2 separate regions of the Homo sapiens genome follow, and region 1 is linked to region 2. A link means that fine-mapping ties the variant in region 2 to the expression of a gene that starts in the linked region. Tissue or cell type: whole blood. Region 2 holds a variant in brackets; the other region holds the start of a gene. All regions are shown on one strand. Distances are between the middles of the regions.

Region 1 (5,402 bases), 23 kb after region 2:
TCCAAACATTTGCCTTCATGTTTCAGTAGGTATTAGAGAAGTTTTTATGATCTATCTTATCACTTGCTCCTACATAACTTAGAATACCCTGAATGCCTTCCTGGAAGTCCTTGTACCATTTATTTTTTCTGAAGTTTATAAAATGGCAGCTCTTGAGGATTACTAGGATGCAATTTTCCTGTTATGTCTAAATAAGAATTAAAGATGATATTAATAAAATTTATCAAGGAGTCTTCATGGACTACAGCCATGGGCCCATGTGTACGTCAACTTAAATATAAATGATACAACTTCTACTAGACACCCCATAAAGTATAGCACTTGATAGAGAGTAGAAGAGAAAGAGCATTGGATTAAGGGTCTTATGACATGAGCTCAAAACATGAATTTTTTTCCTTCAGTAGACCTTACTAGTATTGGGCAAATGAAATCAATGAATCTCACCAGGCGCAGGGGCTCATGTCTGTAATCCCAGCACTTTGGGAGACCAAGGTGGGCGGGTCACCTTAGGTCAGGAGTTTCAGACCAGTCTGGCCAACATAGTGAAACCCTGTCTCTACAAAAAAATACAAAATGTTAGCTGGGTGTGGTGGCGGGCGCCTGTAATCCCAGCTACTTGGGAGGTTGAGGCAGGAGAATTGCTTGAACCCGGGAGGTGGAGGTTGCAGTGAGCTGAGATTGCGTCATTGCACTCCAGCCTGTGCAACAAGAGCAAAAACTCCATCAAGAAAGAAAGAAGGAAGGAAGGAAGGAAGGAAAGAAAGAAAAATGAATCTTTGGAAAGACGAAAATATCAATGCTTTTATAAACATATTGGGAAAAGTTTTAGTTTTCCATGATTTAATTAAATTCAAAAACTATATATTAATCTCTTTATAGGATTCATATATTACACTTAGCATGGAAGATGAGAAGACATGACCCATTATTACTTTCATATTAAATCTAGTATTTGTTTTTCTCTGAATTTCAAGATGGGAACATGAAGCCTAAAAAGCTTTGTCAAGATCACACCAGACAGTATCAGAACCGGTTCACCAGTGTAACTCAGTTTCTTACAAGTCTTTTCTATTAACCATAATTATAGAGATGAAAGTATATCTATTTTTTATATGTCTGTATTTTGTAATCAATATTGATCTCACTGGTCTTAAAATCAAAGATTGTATAAACATTTTCTTCCACTAATTCAGACAATAAAAATGTCAACATGAGCACCCTGCTTTAAAAACATGATATTCCTGAATTTATTTTGCCTTTACCTCCTTTGTCTGCCTACAAGGTGTATGGCACCTCATTTTATCCTGGAATTGCACTAACAATTTACTAAGAGTTGAATGATCCTCACCGTATCTTATCTATTTCAAAATGTTATGAAATTTGTCGATTCAAAGCCTTAGACATAAAATCTATCTCTTCTAGTTTATAGATGAGAAAATTTATGCCCTGATAAATTAAGTGACTTTTAGTGCTGTTTAGGTTATAGGGATTATAATTATTGCTTCATATCGAACATTTACCAAATTATAAAAATGATAAAAGCATTTTAAATTTACATTTTCCCCTGATCATATCCAATGATGTATTAAACATATTCAGGAAAAACTATGCTTTGAGATGAAATTTTGTCTAAGAAATAAAGTATCCTTTGTATTTATATTATTTTATAATATTATGTTTACAACATCTATATTTTCTTTAAGATTATATTGACTTACAAATATTGTGGTATAAATTATTTTATATTATAAATAACATAATTATACCAAATATTTTTAAATGTGTGCAATAATTTTAAAATTATGAATTATTCAAAAGGCTATTTTGTCAAATATATATACTTATATATTATAAAAGAAACACTCTATACACACACATACACAACCTGAATTTATAACACATACACTCATGTTCTTATGAAGAAGGTAAAGGAAAAAATAAAAGATTTAAAAACTGCAGGATAAAGTTTCTTGATCTAATTAACTGATTAGGAACTGCACTTAGGAACTGATGGAGGAACAGCACCCAATTAGCAGAGCTCCAAATTAAGAAGAGCCAAATCACAAAACCAGTTATGATGAATACAGTTAATTTTTTTTTCTGTGTTGTGCTATGAACACAGATTTGTTAGATTTTTTTTCCTGGATACTTTGTAAGCTATAATTCAACACACACACACACACACACACACACACACACACACACACGCCTAACTCCTTTGATTCTTTGAGCAGAATACTATATTCAGATTTCCTTCAAATCACAAGTAGCTTGTTTGGCAAGTTCTAACAGAACTCAGTCAAGGTGAAAGCCAGCCAGCTTTTTACTGGTAACAATGTATTCACACAGCCTATGATCTCTCTCTGTTCAGGCTGCTTCTTGCTCTTGTCTCACAATAAGAAAGGAGTGCTGCTTTCCTGGGGTATGCTATTTGAGAAAGAAAGTAACCTAACACTAACTGCAGGCGGGGTCAGAGTGATGTAACAGGAAGCTCTGATGTTTCCCTTCTGCTGCTGATCACTTACAATCTGACAACACTTACAATCTACTCAGAACAACCTCTCTCTCTCCAGCAGAGAGTGTCACCTCCTGCTTTAGGACCATCAAGCTCTGCTAACTGAATCTCATCCTAATTGCAGGATCACATTGCAAAGCTTTCACTCTTTCCCACCTTGCTTGTGGGTAAATCTCTTCTGCGGAATCTCAGAAAGTAAAGTTCCATCCTGAGAATATTTCACAAAGAATTTCCTTAAGAGCTGGACTGGGTAAGTGCACATTCAAAATAAATATATTTATTCTAAGTAGTATTCTCATATAGTTTGGCAATGTTTCTATTATAGAATTTAGTAGATAGCACTGAAATAATGTTGAAACATAGTCTCACTTATTTCACATGCTAGAGAAAATACAGCCTACTACCCCAACATGAATACAAAATCTAATACTACTAGATAATATTGTTTACCATGGTATTCTAGAAAATAAATTTAGCAAGTATTAAAAATCTAAATGGATTAAAAGACATATTTCTGAACAAATACCTTAATCACAGAACAATGTCTTTTAAAATTAGCTCTAATATTAGCTAAGCTTGAATCTTGACAACTGGAAAACATTTCTCCCCCCGGAAGGGTCTTTAAACTTTCCATGTTATCAGCTGTAAGAAAGAGGTGAAAGAATAACTACTTAATGGGTCTCGGAGTCTCACTTACTCTGTGGTTGATCATAATGCAGAGTTTTGAAAAGTAATCACTTTGTATTTATTACATTTGCTTTTATTTGCCTTTCACCTTTATTTACACATATATCTGTAACTACTGAACTAATTTTTGTGTTCATTGTTGCCAGATGTGTTTAAATCTCTCTTCTGCTAACCCTGAACTGTTTGCTCTTTATTTGGATCATGGTGTCGGCTACAAAGAAAAAAAAAAACCTAGAGTTTAGGAAATGTAGATTTTTAAAACAATTCTTAATTTTGAAATCTTTAAGAGAATACTTCAACTTGACTGGTTCCCCTCTGCAAGCTTTTGGAGGGGGGTGTGATACCACGATATCTGTGGATAAAGAAACGTGACAGCTTTCCCAAAGAAGTATATTAGACGATTAAACAAAGAAATTAAAGTATTTATTAAAAAAGAATTTCCAGGATGGAACTTACTGAAATGTTGGATAAAACATCTGTTAATGCTCATTCCGATAGTACAGACTGTCCTGAACAATTTAAGAAACTAATGTCTGCTTAATAAATTGTTTGTGTAGATATATCACAAATTTGTTGCTGGAGAAAGTTTGATGTCAAATTTTAAATGATGTTGATAGATATGATTTTTAAGTTATATATTTTCTTACCTAAATGCAATTATACTTTCCAAGATGTCCTGCATTGGAAGCATCCTGTACTTAATCACTTATATCTGGCACATTAATAATAGACTACAAACATCCTGAGTAACTCCTCAGTAATTTACAACTCAATTTTTCCACAAATTCCTCAATATAATGAAAATTTAAATTAATTCTTAGATTTGTGATTCTTTAAGAGTATCATGGCTGATTTCTCTCTCTTTTCAATCTTCAGTTGTACTGAGTTCCCTGACACATGTGTAGAAATGGGAAAAGTGTTTTTAGAATGTGACTTTAGCCATTATATAAATGGGGGAGAAAGTGGAAACAACACATTTACTAACCCAATGACGTGGGTTAGTAACAAAAATTAAAACAACATTATTTTTAATTCAGATTATTTTCTTAGGAGGTATTATATTATGATCATATTTTATAATGAGAAACTCTCCAAACTTCCTTAATTTTTGTTTAATTGCTAGTCCCAAACCCATAATTTTCTTGTATAATTTGATTAAATTTTTATGAGTTTACTAACAGTATGGTTTATAATCTTTGTTTTCCAAAAATACTTTTGAAAAACACTAGGCGATGAACATTGAAGGTCATTAGCCAAAGGAAATATTTGAGGACATAACTGGAAGTTTGAAATAAAAATTCATATTATTGTATTCAAAATGTGCTTTCTTTAATGATAAGAAAATATCAGAATATCAATGCATGCTTTTAGCCATAAAGAAATGAATTTACTTTGCTAGAAGATGTTTCCTTGTAGCATCATAAAATCAATGCATTGAGCCTACAGTCAATGCTAAATATGTAAAATGAAACATAGAATTGAAATAGTATGTGAATAATGTGAGCTGAAATATGTTTTACCTGAAATATTCTATTTCTTAAAGAGATAATGTTTTTGATTATTGTTACAAGATTTTTTTTCTATCTTACATACCAAAGCATTATACTAAAAGTTAAAATATGTAGATTTTTATAATATATGAAACTGTTCATTCACTTTGAAAAATTGGAATAACAAAAACATTGTTTAAAATAATACTGGGTCTGTAATTTTAAAAATTATTTTAAATGAATGGGCAAGATTCATATGGTTTTCTCACTGGTGACTCCGAACATGTAATGAATTTTAAATGAAGACAATACTTAGCATATTTGTAAGAATATTTATGTTCACCTGCACATATTATACTATTTTTTCATGCATAACAGAAATAAAATTTCATAAAAAATTGAAAATAATATAAAGGTAAAATGATTACCTTGTTTGCTTTACAGATTAATGTGGACAAAGTATTTGATAAACACATAAACACTAACTGAATTTCAGTTAATAGCATCATTATATATTTCTAACTAGATCATATTTGGAAACATTGTAAAAATATTTTGCTACCAATTTTATCTACATGGCAAAAGTTTGATAGTAACTTAATTTTAAAAGATTGTTCTAGATCTTTATAGAAAAAATATAATAATCTTTAAAGGATCAAAAACTTATTCACTAAACAAAATTTATTTCATACTCTATATATGACTTTTAA
Region 2 (5,402 bases):
GAATTTGAATAAAAAAGAAAATAAAAGAAGAAAAACTGGCCATATCCACATTATGCAGAAACAATCACTGTTGGCATTCTAGCATATCTCATTTACTATTTTCTTGTATTTTTTTTCAACTTACCACAAAGTAAATAAAGTTCAAGACTGGAAGTAGCTGCTGGAGGAGCCCGAACAATATAGAATAAGCTCAGCATAAAAGTATCTTTTTGTAAAATTTAACCTAGCAAATCTCTAAGCTCCCTACCTAATAAAGCTATCTCTATAGTAATCATCCTCCCAACTGATTGCATGTCCTCTTAAATATTTGCCCAATGGATACATATATAAATTCTATTCTCATTTATATGTGCTTGTATATATATGTATGTATTGTGTGTTGGTACAAAATATAAATTATTATATTTTCTTGATTCTAACATGCAGGTTTTTCTACCTTTTAACATGATTCTAATGATGATGAAACTTATAACTGATAGTGTATAACAGTGTAATTATGTTTTTCTTTCTTTTTTTTTCGAGATGGAGTCTTGTTCTGTTACCCAGGCTGAAGTGCAGTGGCTCAATCTCAGCTCACTTGCAACCTCCACCTCCGGAGTTCAAGTGATTCTCCTGCCTCAGCCTCCCTAGTAGCTGGGACCACATGCGTGTGCCACCACGCCCAGCTAATTTTTGTATTCTTAGTAGAGACAGGGTTTCACCTAGTTGGTCAGGCTGGTCTCAAACTCTGGACCTCAGGTGATCCACTCACCTCGGCCTCCCAAAGTGCTGGGATTACAGGTGTGAGCCACCACGCCTGGCCGTGTCTTTCTTTGTTTATGAATAGTACATAAAATAATAGTGCATCTTCAAATTAATGACATTTGGATTTCATATAAATGATATTTCATATAACATTTGGCAAGCTATAAGCAGTTTCTTGTCCCACATAGTACTCTTCTACTTTTGTTGGCATGGGGAAGAAAAAAGTGTTGAATAGGAGATAAATTCATAGCAGTAAGGTCCATGGTTTGCTAAATGGTTTAGGCACTTTAAATGTCGTTGTAGGCATATAAATTTGTGAAAAGTTTCAGTGGAAAATTCAGCAACATCTACCAAGTTATAAATTGAATATAGATTTTGCATAATTCTAATTTTAGAAGTATGTCCTCTGGAAGCACCTGAACCAGTGTACATGGGTGTTCATGAGCCACTGTCTGGTACTGAAAAAAATAAATTATAATAATCCATATGTCCATTTGACTAAATATACTGTAGTCAACTCATAAAATGAAATACTGTACCTACATTAAAAAGAGTGAGGCCTATATAAAAATGTGGAGACACAGCCACAAAATATTATCAAGTATAGTAATATAGAATATTATATTAATACATTTGAATATGCAAACAATTTGGAGATATGTAAACCATTGGTAGTGGTTAAAGGGCAAGAATCAAATTATGGATAAATTTTGTTTTACATTTGTTATACTTTTATATTATTTCAAAGTTTTACAAAGATAATTTGCAGTAAATAATTTATATTTCTCTTTACTACAAAATTATAGAGAAAAAAACTTTAAAAAAGATTTGTTATTCAATTCCCTAAAAAGTCTTAGAAGAATAAAATAAATGTACTTAACAAGTTGTAAGATATTTCTTAAAACCTAGTTTGTTTAGTAAAACAAAAGCCTAAGTAGGCAAGCCAAATGGGAATCATAAAAAAGATACCACAGTAAAGATTCAAAGTGAATATATGATTCAAAGTTTACTGTACAAATCTCAAAGCAAATTTACATTAACAACTTTACCTGTAAAACTGAGTTTAGAGCACCATCTTACAGTTCAGCAGTCACACTAGATCATGATAGTTCCTGATTTAAAAAAAAAAGTGTACCCTGAATTCTGAAACCTATCAAAAACCCTGTAGACAGAAGGTACACAACTGGTTATTAATGGCAGAATCAAGACAGAATGCATTTGATTATTAAATTCCCTTTGGAAAAACAACAAAAGTCAGGTTAGTGTCTTTTTATTCTATCTTAACTTTCTGTCAATAATTATAATCTCAACTAAAAAAATTACATTTCGCAAAACCTTTATATTTTCTTTCATTGTAGATAGCAAATTCTGGATTTTGAATAGATGAGTGCTGATCTATATGTAGAATAAATTTGCTATTTGGAAACAATGAAGTTTTTCTCTTCAAGAAGTGAAAAAAATTCAAATGGAACTAAAATGTTCTTAAGAAACCATTTGCTTCATTACTTTAATTTTACTGTCATTTATGGTATAGTAACCCAATGATAGTCTTACTGCTCAGAGTTAAAATGATCTTAAGATAAATGAATTAGTTTACGTATTAGGTAAAATTTATGTTCTGAAGAATAACCGCCTTATAATGATTCCTTAACTGACAATAATTTATTGCATCTTTAAAAACCTCTAAAAGTTAATTACACATAATACAATATCCTTAGTGATTAACTTCACATTTTAATGCACTATCGAAATATTGCCATTTCTAGTGTTAGGAACCTCACTGTTGATCTGGGTCAAAACTCTGTTGTGTTGAATGATCTGCGTAAGCAGTGGTTGAAATCAGGGCAAAGTAAGATAGATAAACAACTGACATTGCATCAGTCATGGACAAGTAGGAGCAAGTATCTGATTATAGGTGCATCTGCATACCAAATCCCAGGCTGTCAGAAGCAGCATGCCAGACACCCTCTGATTCAGAAGTCATAAAGAGTGTCAGTAGAGGCAATCTGATGCCTTGGATAATTTAGTGAAGTTTTCTCTGCTGGCATCTATGCTGGTCAACTGTCTGTTTGCTCTCAAACCAATCCCCTGCTCATGTGGTTTTATGGGGAACTTTCTCCTCTGGCTTCTGAAAGGATTTGGTAAATGGCAGGCCTTGTTGGATGACTGGATAGTCAAAGGAAGACTGAAGCTAGCATATGTCTCTCCACCACATCTGTGGTGTATCTTCCATGGTTTCAGCTTCAATGGAAAGGCCCAAATGGTTCT[A/G]GGATTCACCTGCTGTTCTTGGTCTATGATAACAGAGGCTCCTCTTCTCATACGTCCAATCTAGGGACTGTAGCCCCATATGTACTAGCCTAGCTTTTTCCCATTTTGAAATAACCTTGATTTTATGATTGGGCCATGTTTACTATAGGTTGTATGTGGGAAAAGAGAAGAAGTTTGCTCCCTGTCATCAGAAAATTTTCTCTGTTCTGGAATAAGGGGGCTTGATGTCTGGCATTGCTATTTAGACGTAACAACTAACATTTGCAAAGAAGGATACAACTTACAACCACATTCACACATATTATCTGCAACTTACTGTGGGCAGATATATCTTACATACAAAATGCTAAAGTGAAATTGATGTATAAGTCATATATCATTTTATCATACACATCTATTTCGAAGTTACTGTGGGTGTTTAAACAGGAAAAAAAGCGATAGTAATTTCCTGTTTTCTCTGTTTCTCAAATTAGGTTAATTGCATCTAGTGCATCTCTTTTGTTTCTGAACATAGGTGATAACTGGAAGCTCATGAGATCAAAGTGGTGGCAATTAATAATCATTTTATATTCTACACTGTGCAAGGATGATGATAATACACATCCCACACATTGGAAAAGTGTGTACAATAGTACAAATCAATTACAATATAACTCTCCTAGACTGCTAGAAAATTCCTCTAATATAAATGATTCTTAGTGACAGGAAATGTCAACATTTTCTAGAATGTCTAGCACACATTCTCACCATTCAACTTTGATTTATGATGGCATATCATCATGTCAAAGGATACAAAATACAGGCATGTAGGATAAATAAGCCTAGAGATCTAATGTACAACATGAAGATGACAGTTAGTAAAACAGTATTGTGTTAGGGATTTCTGTTATATAAGTAGATTTTAGCTACCCTTGTCACACACACAAAAATGTAACTGTGAGAAGATGGGTATGTTAATCTGCTTCACTACAGCAACTATTTTACTATCTATATGTATCCCATAACATCATTTTGTAAACCTCACATATACACAATAAAAATTATTTTAAAAATCACGCACTATAATCCCCACATAGGAGAAGGTAAAACATAAAGGGCTACATATGATTTAAAACGATGTTTTCATTTTACAAATCCTAGAAGGTCTTCTTAAAATCACTGCATATATACCTAGTCAAAGACCTAAGTAAAACTAAATACTCTTTATTTGATTATAGTTCTGATATCTTATTGATATAGTTTGGCACAAAAATATCACCTGTCTCAAATTTCTTCTCATAAATTATTCTCACAGTATTCATTCCCTCTCATATTTCCCAGAATATTTTTTATTACCTGAGTTACTATATCAAGACACTCTAGTCCTTATTTAAATATCTAGAAGGCAGGAGGTGGTAAAAAATGTTTATATCAATTTGAGATTTTTTTTCATTTTTTTCTCACTTTGTTTTATTTCTTTTCTTTTACAGTCTGTTCATCTGGGGTTTATTTGCCAAAAGACTGCTTCTTGCTTAAAGCACAATCTATTCACCTTCATTAACTACTGGATTCCTCAAAGTTCTATTTTCTGCTAATATTGGACATTTAGCAAATCTTCCTCCTCTGTATTTGCTTGTATCACATCTCACCATTTGACAAAGCCATTAAAGTTTTCTTGTATTGATTCCTTGCCATACAACTTACCTGTAGTACTGGTTTATTAACATCAAGCAGTTTAGCTGTGCTACCGAAGAGTACTCGGTGCCCCTCACTGACAGTAATTCCCAGAGAGCTAAAAACTAACATTCAGCTGAAACTAATTTCTCTTTTGATTTGGCAAATGAGTGCTCCTTTTATTACCCTAATTGTATTTTTCTCTTCTGTTTTTGAAAACCATTGATTGATCCCATTGACAAACCAGCTTATCTGTCTGATCCAAATCAATTTGCTTCCTTTGCAAAAACATTTAACTCATCTAGAACTAAGCTTCAAATATGAGAAAAAAAATGCTACCAAGACAAACAACTCATCTGGACTCATTCCTTGAAACTTAAAACTTGCCATACCTGAATTCCTCCACTTTAAACTGTGCTTGTATTACATCAGTCAGCATGTGCTTAGTCAAGAGAAGTAACTCTTCCTCAGCTTCAGTGTTTTTGTTACATCACAAATAAAAACTTTGCTCATTAGAATTTTTTAAAGCCAAATATTTGTGAACAAATGATATGTAAATTAATATATATGTGTGATGTGTGTGTGTGTGTGTGTGTGTGTGTGTGTGTCTGTAAGAAATTTTCAGCAGTTACATTGTTGAAGAGTGGTTTTTATTATGTACAAATAGTTTGTTCATATAAAGAGTAATCATAACACTTCTCTTTAGCAAATGAGATTTTTTAATTCATTGGAGAAAG

The links.
Region 1: it holds the start of CALCRL, and the variant in region 2 is fine-mapped to the expression of CALCRL in whole blood (TOPMed, PIP above 0.99).

Annotation. Positions count from the first base shown.
Region 1 is chr2:187,445,402-187,450,803 of GRCh38, reverse strand. It overlaps CALCRL (calcitonin receptor like receptor), which reads left to right and starts at 2,552. Exons shown (of 15, transcript NM_005795.6): 1 at 2,552-2,765. The region is part of intron 2 of CALCRL-AS1 (CALCRL and TFPI antisense RNA 1); the gene reads right to left.
Region 2 is chr2:187,468,130-187,473,531 of GRCh38, reverse strand. All of the region lies in intron 6 of TFPI (tissue factor pathway inhibitor), which reads left to right. The region is part of intron 2 of CALCRL-AS1 (CALCRL and TFPI antisense RNA 1); the gene reads right to left. Among named protein-coding and RNA genes, the nearest start is that of CALCRL, 23 kb to the right of the region's middle. The variant A/G (reference allele first, on the strand shown) is at 3,013.